Regions from separate parts of the Homo sapiens genome. Here region 1 is reported to be linked to region 2. Evidence: microRNA targets listed by miRTarBase, many of them from high-throughput screens and not tested one by one. Region 2 holds a microRNA gene; the other region holds the end of a gene's coding sequence.

Region 1 (5,074 bases), not on the chromosome of region 2:
AAGGACACACACCCCAAATGCCAAAAAGCCTACATAGATAGGAAAAATCAGTTCCAGTCCATCAGAACTTACAACCGTGGAGACACCACCCTTTGCCACTCTCTGGGGTTGGGGGTTGCAAGACTCTCTGGTGAAACAAAGCCCACATAGGGACCAGGTATCCTTGTAGCTCTCACGAGATGAAGAAAACAGAAAATGGAGAACATAACCAAATTCTTGGAGACGGAGTTAGTGCAGAAGCTGAGAACTGGTAAGAGACTGTGTTATTTGGCTTCTGCGACCATCCACCTTGGCCCAACTGTCCATTTCCTCACTTCCTGCTCTGCCTGTTCACCTTCTTGTGATGTCTTAATCCTGGAGGAAACAGGAGGGGTCAGGGAATCCCACTGGAAATGAAATTTCTCGGCTTCATTTCAAAGCTCCTGTGGAAGTCCAAACACACTTCTGAAGCCACAGGGACAAGGGAATGACTTTCATCAGTTCCATTTTCACTGCCTTGATCTGGGAGCATCCAGAAGAGCAGCTAGAGAACTAAAACCACGGAGCAGTTAGCAAGCATCCATTTAAAAAATATGACAAAAATGGAAAGATAAAAATGAATGATGGCATTTCAATATCAACACAATTAATACCCTGTGAACTTTAAGTGTTCTAACCTATGGAAGGCAGGCCAAGCAAATCAGCAGAGGCCTAGAATCTGTGAGACTGAAGACAGCAAGAAATAATGAGAGTGCTGGTAAGAAAAAAATGTCAATAAGAATTTGCAAATGTGTCTCCAAGCTCCAATACTATGCTTTTCAGAATGTTGCTGCTCACAGCTGACAGATGCTTTACAGGATGGTATTTGGAATGGCAAAGGAAAAGGGAAAAAATATCTGTAGGCAAATAATAAACAATTACTTACCGTAAAAATAGTCTCTAAAGACTTAGAACACTCCTAACACTGTCCCTACTTAGTCAATCAGCCATGCTTTTCTAGATCACAGAAATCTACTGTTCATCCAGATGTCTTTTTTGGAAATAAATGATGGGCCTATGATGAGAAGCAATTTGCTTTCCTTAAAATGAAATGCTTTCTTTAAAAGGGCATATTCTGGTCCAGAGCAGGTAAACTATCAATGAGTGATAGCAGTAGCAATAATGAGTACTTCCTCTTTTCTAGTTCTTGAACATGGTTGAAAAGGAACCCACACTAAGGGATTTAGAAGATGGCAGATAAATACTTGTTTTCAATCTATCATGTGTAACCAGAAGCCTGCAAGCAAACAGGTTTTGAACCCCTAGTTCAAAGACACTGAAGAACTAGATGTGCAGGAGACAGCTATACCTTGAGAAGCTTTGAATTTAGTAGGGCAATAAGATATGTACTCAGTGTCAGGCGTAGTGGCTCACACCTGTAATCCCAGCACTTTGGGAGGCCGAGGCGGGAGGATCACTTGAGGCCAGGAGTTCGAGACCAGCCTGGCCAACTTGGCAAAAACCCGTCTCTACTAAAAATACAAAAATTAGCTGGGCGTGGTGGCATGCACCTGTAATCCCAGCTACTAGGGTGGCTGAGGCAGAGAATCGCTTGAACCCGGGAGGCAGAGGTTGCAGTGAGCCAAAATTGCACCACTGCACTCCAGCCTGGGCAACAGAGTGAGACTCTGTCTCAAAAAGAAAAAGTACTCAGACCACTTAAATATAAGGCAGACTATGGTAAGAGTCACAGGGATGATATGGGTAAATGCTATAGGAATGTAGGGGAAGGACCATTTCCAGCTGGATCATCAGGAGATTATAGGAAGCATAGGTTTGCCAGATGCAAAAGGGATCCAAGACCTTCTAGGAACTCAAAGGCAGGAGCAAAGGCACTCAAGTGAGAAACTGGGAACTGTTCAGAGTAACTGCAACAGAGACTTCATATATAGGAGAGGAAGAAAACGAAACGGAAGGGTTGCTTAGGATTACATGTAGAGAGTCTTAAAATGCCGGGTCAAGAGATTGAGACTTTATTAGTAGACACGGGAAGGTATTAAGGGTTTCTAAATACTACTTTCGGGTGTTGGGCAGTGGTAGGATAGAATGGAAGGCAGGAGACCAAGTAGATGACTGTAAAGCCCCCAACTATCCATTAAGTATATTAAGGGGGAAAACAGTAGATTATTTATCATTACAGTTGTACTTTCTGGGGAGGTCTGTGCTTTAAATATCCAACTCGGCCCTCTGAGGAAAAACTCACCCTCCTGTAAAAGGGACATATTTATTATGAAGACACAAAAACCATCACATACAAAGTACAATACTATAACATCCTGAAATACATATACACACATACTGTACATAAATTTATATTATCAATATAAAAATACATCATTAACATTTCTAAGGATGACAAATACTAAACCAATAAATATTGCAATTCTAAAACATCTACTTACATTAAGTGCTGGTGAATAGGATGACGGTAAAAGAAAGAGGACAAAGCGGACCAGAAAACCAACCACCTGGCTTCCAGTTACAGACTTGAGTTGGTTTGGGGGAGGTATCCCAATCAATTTCCCCAAACACTGAAAAGTGCCTGATGTCATCAACTCTCAAAAACAGAGCAAAGGAAGAATTTGACATTATGGCACTATTTTTTGGCCACATGCGCGCGCGCACACACACACACACACTCTTCAACCGCATTTAGTGAGATACAGAAATATCAATCGATAATAAGTTTAAATTAAAATCAAAGCCCCTACAACCTAACCTTCTATGTAGCACCCCAGCAGAATGTTTTACTTCTCATACTCATCTTTCCTATCTTGTGTTAAGTCTTTTTTCCTTTCAATAAGTAAAACTACATTGATGGTCAAATGAGAGAAAAATCCAGCATTAATTCTAGCATGAGAACAAGGCACAAATGTCAGAAAAGGTTTAATGGATCAGCTGTTAAACTGAAGAGTGCCATGCCCTAGCAAACACTCACGACTCAAAACCATAACTTTTCTTGTGTCCAAACACCATCAGACTATTGCCACAGGGATATTCTTTTTTTTTTTTTTTTTTTTTTTTTTTTTCTGAGACAGAGTCTCACTCTGTTGCCCAGGCTGGAGTGCAGTGGCATAATTTCGGCTCACTGCAACCTCCACCTCCCGAATTCAAGCGATTCTCGTGCCTCAGGCCCCCAAGTAGCTGGGACTATAGGCATGCACCATCATGCCCAGCTAATTTTTGTATTTTAGTAGAGACAGGGTTTCACCATATTGGCCAGGATGGTCTCGATCTTTTGACCTATGATCCACCTGCCTCGGCCTCCCAAAGTGCTGGGATTACAGGCGTGAGCCACCATGCCCGGCCCCAGGATATTCTTTTGTGCAAAGTTTAGGAAACTCCATGCACTTCTCAAAACATCAGATGCTGGGGACTGGCTTATACAAGAAATATGGAGAACACATATAATAGATTTTAGCCATGGGCTAGATTTTCAGATTTTAACAGAGACAGATAAGTGGTGAAGAACTCCATGAAAGTTGTATTTAAGTCAGAAGATTCTTTTTCGTGTGTGTGCGTTTCTATTATATAGATGAACTATTTCATATGTGCTGTCAGAGGGGACAATCCCACCATCCCATAGCATGTTACTTTAAGGTCAATTAGGGCTTCTAGCTTTCAACCAAATGGGAACTCCTATAAACCATCCCGTTTCTCTTGTCTTTCAGGCTATACTGACTTTCTTGCTTGAAGCTGTAACAGATTAATTAGAACTCAAAAGTCCTTTCTGTCACCTTCACATTGGTCTTTAGACAACCTTGGATGGGCCTTTCACTATACAAGCTAATTCCAGGAGGGACTCAGGGATCCCTCTGCCCGAAGTCAGAACTAGAAGGTGGGGCTGGGAAGTAAGGAATGAAAAGCAAATGGGACTATCATAAGAGGTATAGAAGTTTTAAAAAACAGATATACATTTCGAGAAGATTCTGGTTTCTTCAGCTGGGGATTCTGGGAACTTAGTATATACTGGAGAGTTCACAGGTCAGGCTGCATGGTCTGGTCCAGAATCTACTTGGTCTCTGGTCTCCTCACATCGTAAACACTTTCTAAGAGATCAAGAACAATTCAAAAGAACCCATCCAATCAACATGTCACAACTGACTGCCATGACTGAGTCAAATCAACCGTAAGATCCTGGGGCTCCTGAATCACTTCCAGAAATGAGAAAGCAGGACTTCGACCTTTAAGAATGATATGCCCTCAGCTGTTACCAATATCCGAGGCTAAGAAGGTTCAAGTCTGAAAGTTGATTGAGTAACTGCAATGATCCTTGGGTAGAGCAGATTCTTCTCTTGCTGCTGAATGTCCTCAGACGTGTAGAGTGCCAGGAGCAGGGGAGAGGGCAGTCCTGGAGGTACACCCTCTGGCCTCTCCCAAGCAAGCAGTGAGGTGTGCATTGTTAGAGGTGCACCGGGAAGGGAGCTTGGTTTCGGACCCCAGGACATCCTGTCCGCAAGCAGCTGCTACTTCTTGGGCTTCTCTAGAATATTGAGGAATTTCCCCCGTGTCATCTCTCTGGCTGGAATCACAAAGCAAACAAATGATCAATGAAAACCTAAAATCGGAAAAAAGAATCATAGGAAGATTTAATTTAAAAATGCAGATTGATTTAAATTATATATCAAGTTGCTATCACAACAGATTCAATCATCACCAACTAACCTAAAAGGGGGTAAAAACAAACCACTATAGACAACTAAAACTGTACAAAGCTATTCTGAAGTTGGCAATTGAGATACATGCCAAATGACTGGGAAAGATTTTATCATCCACCTTTAAACAAATCACCAGGGGATTCCCCCAAAACCTATCTCTGTCTCTAGAATCTAACCTAATACTCATGTTCACTATCTCAGGGGGTTTGCTCTTGAAGCCTAAAATCCAACCAAGATTAGTCTTCTCTGGGTTGCTGGTCTCTGGACATTTATAATCTCAAATCAAAATTAGAGATCATTTACCCTATCTCTCAGCAGTGTTAGTCCCTGGATACTGTAATATAACAGGGTTTATATTCCCTCAGTGCAGTTCATCTGTGGATGGTGTCATAAAGTAG
Region 2 (5,074 bases):
GTATGTGTTGCCTCAGACACCACAGTGACTATCTTTGTATGAAGTATAAAGCAGACCAATTCAGACAAAAATGAAAATGTACCAGAAAAAAATAATTTGGACCCTGTTGAAAATGAAATCTATTTCAAAAGCTTCAATCCTCTCTTTACTGCGATTGTCTATAAGTGACTATGAATTTAAGAAGTTGTGTTTCATTGTTAATTGCAATATTTTTCAAAGCTATTATACTCTAGGTCTGGAGACCACAGTTGATCTAGGTTTGGTGGTCTGCTACAGAGGGAGATTTCTTTTTTGAAGGGTTTTTTTTTTTTTTTGGCGGGGAGCAGGGTGGGATGAGGGCAAAAGGGGGTTAAAATAGGTGGCAAATGATAGCTTTCATCCTTAGTGAAAAGCCATGGCTTCTAGAAATGTCTACCATCTGATAGTCATTCGACAAATGTCTATTGAGCACCCATATATGCCAGGTACTGTTCTGGACCCTTGGGATACATCAACAATCAAAACAGAGAAGCAGCCTGTCCTCCTGCAGCTTCCTTTCTGGAGAAAATTCTAAAATATGACTAGGTGGTCTTCGATTAATTGGCTATTTTTCTTTAGCAGAAAATTTTGTGACAGCATTGAGGGTTAGGAAAGAGTTTTCAGGCCAGGTGCGGAGGCTCACACCTATAATCCCAGCACTTCGGGAGACGGAGGCGGGGAGATTACCTGAGGTCAGGAGTTCGAGACGAGCCTGGTCAACATGGCGAAACCCTATTTCTACTAAAAATACAAAAAAATTAGCCAGGCGTGATGGCGCATGCCTGTGATCCCAACTACTTGGGAGGCTGAGGCAGGAGAATCGCTTGAACCCAGGAAGTGGAGGTTGCAGTGAGCAGAGATTGTGCCACTGCACTCCAGCCTGGGCAACAGCGAGATTCTGTCTCAAAAAAAAAAAAAAAAAGAAATTTAAAAAAAGAAGAAAAAAGAAAAGAATTTTGAAAAATTTTCTGGTGCTCCCTTAGAAACCATCACTAAAAATTTCATCTTTGCTTCTGCTTATGGTATTGAAAGCTTTTTGTTCATATCAGAAATATATATGCAGAGTTTTCTGTGGTAAGGAATTGTGCTAAGAAGCAGGAGGGGATATAAACATATGTGAGACGTATCTGTCAACTTATCCTTTGATGGGTTCCACCCATACCACGGTTTCAAAGGAAAATACTATCATCTCTGTGTTGCAATGGCCGGGCAACATCATTCTGCCCATGGTACCTCCAGTAAATACAGAACAGAGCTGGAACTCTGCCTTTCACTCAATTAAAGCCCCTTGTGGTTCAGATGTTTACACAATGGAAACTAACAAAGAAACCAAAGGCCAAACAGAGTGGTTGGGGCAGAAGGGTCTTTTAATCCTGGGTCTGAGGACCAATGTCCTAAAGGGATAAAAGCCCACCCAATGTCACCAGAGGCAGAAATAGGATGCATGCTGCCTGTCACCCGATGATCAGAGACCATATATTATTCTCTCTGTTCAGATCCATCATTGAGGTTTTTATGAGAGAAGGCTGTCTTGAAGGAATGCTTTATCTCGGTTTGCACATACTGCAAGTCAACCAGAGTTAGAGGGAGCTGCCATGTTTGTGCTGGAAGTGATAGAGCTGGGCTGCAGGGGGGTGGAGGATGGGGGAGGTAGGAGAGCAGACGTCTATTGATTTGGTGTTTTAGCTAATCGACCTATGGTTTGGGACTCAGGATGTGGTCAAGTGTTGTTAAGGCATGTTCAGGAACAATACTTGACCACATTTTGAATTCCAAACCATATTCTACAACTTTTTCCACATATTTGGTGTAATCCTCCATTTTCTATTTTTGAGTTCGACAAAAAGGGGTCAAGAAAATATAAATGCATTTCGAGAGTTTTTTAGACCTCCAAAGGTCTTGAAGAATAATATTTTGAGGAGTTAGGTATAAATAATTCAGAAACATATGGATAGAATTTACTTCTACATATCAGAATGTAACACAAAGTAAGGAGAAATATTTGACTGTACTCTGCTTGGTAGGGTCCCAGTGTTTGAAAGAAGTGCAGCCGCATGAACCATTCTGGGCTGCTTCCTGTCCCGCTTTTGTACGCATCTCTCTCTCTCTTGCTTTCAAGCTGCATGAACATGTACTTAGACCTCAGGTATATTTTAAGGAATAACAGCTGGTAGTTTGAGGGACCCATACATCCCTCACGTACGGCCATAGATGCTATGTTCAGCAAATATGAACAAACACAGCAAAAATCTATGCTGTGCTCTCCGCCACATCGATGCTGGCTTTTCTAGCATTCCATCCAATTCCAGCTTTCTGCTTGTCTCAGAAATGGATGGGGGTCAGGGGTGTGACAGGAATAGCTTCATAACTTGAGGAACCCAGTACAAAATGAAAATGTGGGCCCCTTGTTCAATAAGTATTAAGAATGTTAGGATGGCAACAGCAGAACGTTCGAAGAAGGCTGGGGAGTTTGGCCTAGGAAGCTGGCCCTGCGTGGTGATGCCCTAAGGCATTTTTTCCCCTCTAACATTTCTTCTTTTTCTTTCTTTCTTTTCTTTCCTTCCTTCTTTCTTTCTTTCTTTCTCTTTCTTTCTTGAGATGGAGTCTCACTGTGTTGCCCAGGCTGCAGTGCAGTGGTGTGATCTCAACTCACTGCAACCTCTGCCTCCCTGGTTCAAGTGATTCTCCTGCCTCAGTGGCTGGGATTACGGGCGTCTGCCACCACCGCCTGGCTAATGTTTGTATTTTTAGTAGAAACAGGGTTTCGCCACGTTGCTTAGGCTGGTCTTGAACTCCTGACCTCAAGTGACCTTCCCACCTTGGCCTCCCAGACTACTGGGATTACAGGCATGAGGCAGCGTACCTGGCCGCCCTTCAACATTTATTTTGGCAAATAAAAACAAGATGATGGCAGAATAATAAATGTGAACACCGATTTAAAAGGTAGTATGGCCTGAGAATGTAATGGAAGGATTTGGATTTCCCAAGCACTGCTAACTAAAATCAAGAGACAGGACCAGATATCAGCAAACATTTCAAAAGGAATCACCGTATGGTGAAAAGAAATGAAGCTGTAGACGGAACCAGTTGAGTTCTAATTAGCAAAGAGGTAAGCAATTCAGAAGAGTGGTGAGGCTACAGTTCTTGAGGCTATTGTGCTATTTGTTTTTTTTAATAGAGACTCTAAGGAAAGCCATTAATGCAAAGAAAGGAATTCTATTTAAACCTGATGGTGCTGTGTTGCATTAGGTTGGTACAAAAGTAATTGCAGTTTTTGCCATTAAAAGTAATAATAATTTGGCCTGTAATCCCAGCACTTTGGGAGGCCAAGGTGGGCAGATCACCTAAGGTCAGGAGTTTCAGACCAGCCTCATGCTTGGCAATGAGCCAAGATCGTGACACTGCACTCCAGCCTGGGTGACAGGGTGAGACTCCATCTCAAAAAAAAAAAAGTAATCATAATAACACCAAGAAAGTTTTAAAATAAACATTGAATCACTTTTGGGATGTTTAATATGTGGGCAAGTCTCTGCTTTTGCAATTTTTTATTTTTTATTATTTTGAGACAGAGTCTTATTCTGTCGCCCAGGCTGGAGCACAGTGGCACTATCTCAGCTCACTGCAACCTCTGCCTCCTGGGTTCAAGTGATTCTCCTGCCTCAGCCTCCCAAGTAGCTGGGATTACAGGCATGCACCACTATGCCTGGCTAATATATATATTTTTTTTTTTTTTTTTTTTTTAGTGGAGACGGGGTTTCACCATGTTGGCCATGCTGGTCTCGAACACCTGGCCTCAAGTGATCCACGCGCCTCAGCCTCCCAAAGTGCTGAGATTACAGACATGAGCCACCACACCCAGATGCTTCTGCAATTTTTTATTTGACCACATGCTTTACTCAGTGTTGCCTAAATAGAGATCTCTACTTCTTCCCTCACAGTTGCCAGAGATGAATAAACGTGTAAAGCAACAACTCTTGCACTCTGAAGTCACCTTACAACAATGTCTTTTACGATGAGTCTTGAGAATGAGACCACCGAATCTAAATGTAGGCATTGCCCATAACATTTGTTTCTAGAAATGTTGTACATGGCCTGCTCTTATGTATTTATTTTTAAAAGAAATATTTTTTCTGCTGATAAAAATTTAAGCGATGATACAGAAGTGTGCAGAGTACAAAACTGAAATCTCTTGTTTATTTCCATCTCTTTTGTGAGAAGCCTGTTAATATCCTTTGAAATTCTTCTGCAAGCTTTGTCATATTATATTATAAAGAGCACTTTATAAGTTCAGTATTTTTTACAGTTTCTCATTCATCTTTTTTGTTTGTTTGCCTGTGGGGTCGATTAAGACTTGCTTTTAGAAAAAAACAAGGAGACGAAAACAGAGTGTGGGTCACATTCTTTACACAGAGTTCACTCTCATTTTTAAAGAAGAATTGATTCTATTTTTTAGCTGATCAGCATAAAGTGCTTTATTAAGCATAAACTTGTACCATGTACTTTATCTTATTTATTTAAGATGGATGAATCTGTTTTATGCATATATTAAAAAGTTATCAAAAAAGCAACACCCAGTGCTTCATATATTACAGAAAATAAGTGTTAATTCAATAAACAAACTAGAAATTCTTCAGTATGCCAAAGACTTGGCTTTAGATGAACTATCAATTTAATTCCATTCAGCAAACATCTGTTAAGCATCTGCTGGTGCTGCCTTTACTGAATGAGCTGCTTCCTGCAGATCGAAGGATGAGCTGGACTAGGTTCTGACCCAGGGCAAGTCTGCTCCATCTGACTTCTTATAGGTGGTAAAATGCACAAATACTACAGGCTAAACGAAGTACTACAATGAAAGAAGTCTTTCCTGGCAAAGTGGACCACGGGACTTAATAAGTCTTTCATTTCAAATCTATGTCATCTCATAAATAGCAGAGCAATGTGTGACAACACAAAGACTTTATTCCCTTCATAGACTCCACTAGGGGACACTTCCCAGAAGACTGGAAAGTATTTCAAACAACATAATCTACACTTCTCAGACTGAGTTAGCAAAGGG

The links. The annotated mature microRNA hsa-miR-1265 reads CAGGAUGUGGUCAAGUGUUGUU and lies in region 2 at 1,729-1,750, shown strand. An mRNA with a match to its seed (bases 2 to 7 or 8) in the 3' UTR can be bound and repressed. Matches are read on the target gene's strand: a 7mer-m8 pairs with bases 2 to 8, a 7mer-A1 pairs with bases 2 to 7 and ends in A, and an 8mer does both.
Region 1: miRTarBase lists LIN52 as a target of hsa-miR-1265. Seed matches in the 3' UTR shown: 7mer-A1 at 2,437-2,443.

The regions. Positions count from the first base shown.
Region 1 is chr14:74,198,388-74,203,461 of GRCh38, reverse strand. It overlaps LIN52 (lin-52 DREAM MuvB core complex component), which reads right to left. Exons shown (of 6, transcript NM_001024674.3): 6 at 1,969-4,540. The coding sequence ends at 4,485. Among named protein-coding and RNA genes, the nearest start is that of VSX2, 39 kb to the left of the region's middle. RefSeq lists a silencer at 1,089-1,289.
Region 2 is chr10:14,434,861-14,439,934 of GRCh38, forward strand. It overlaps MIR1265 (microRNA 1265), which reads left to right and starts at 1,716; the gene lies at 1,716-1,801.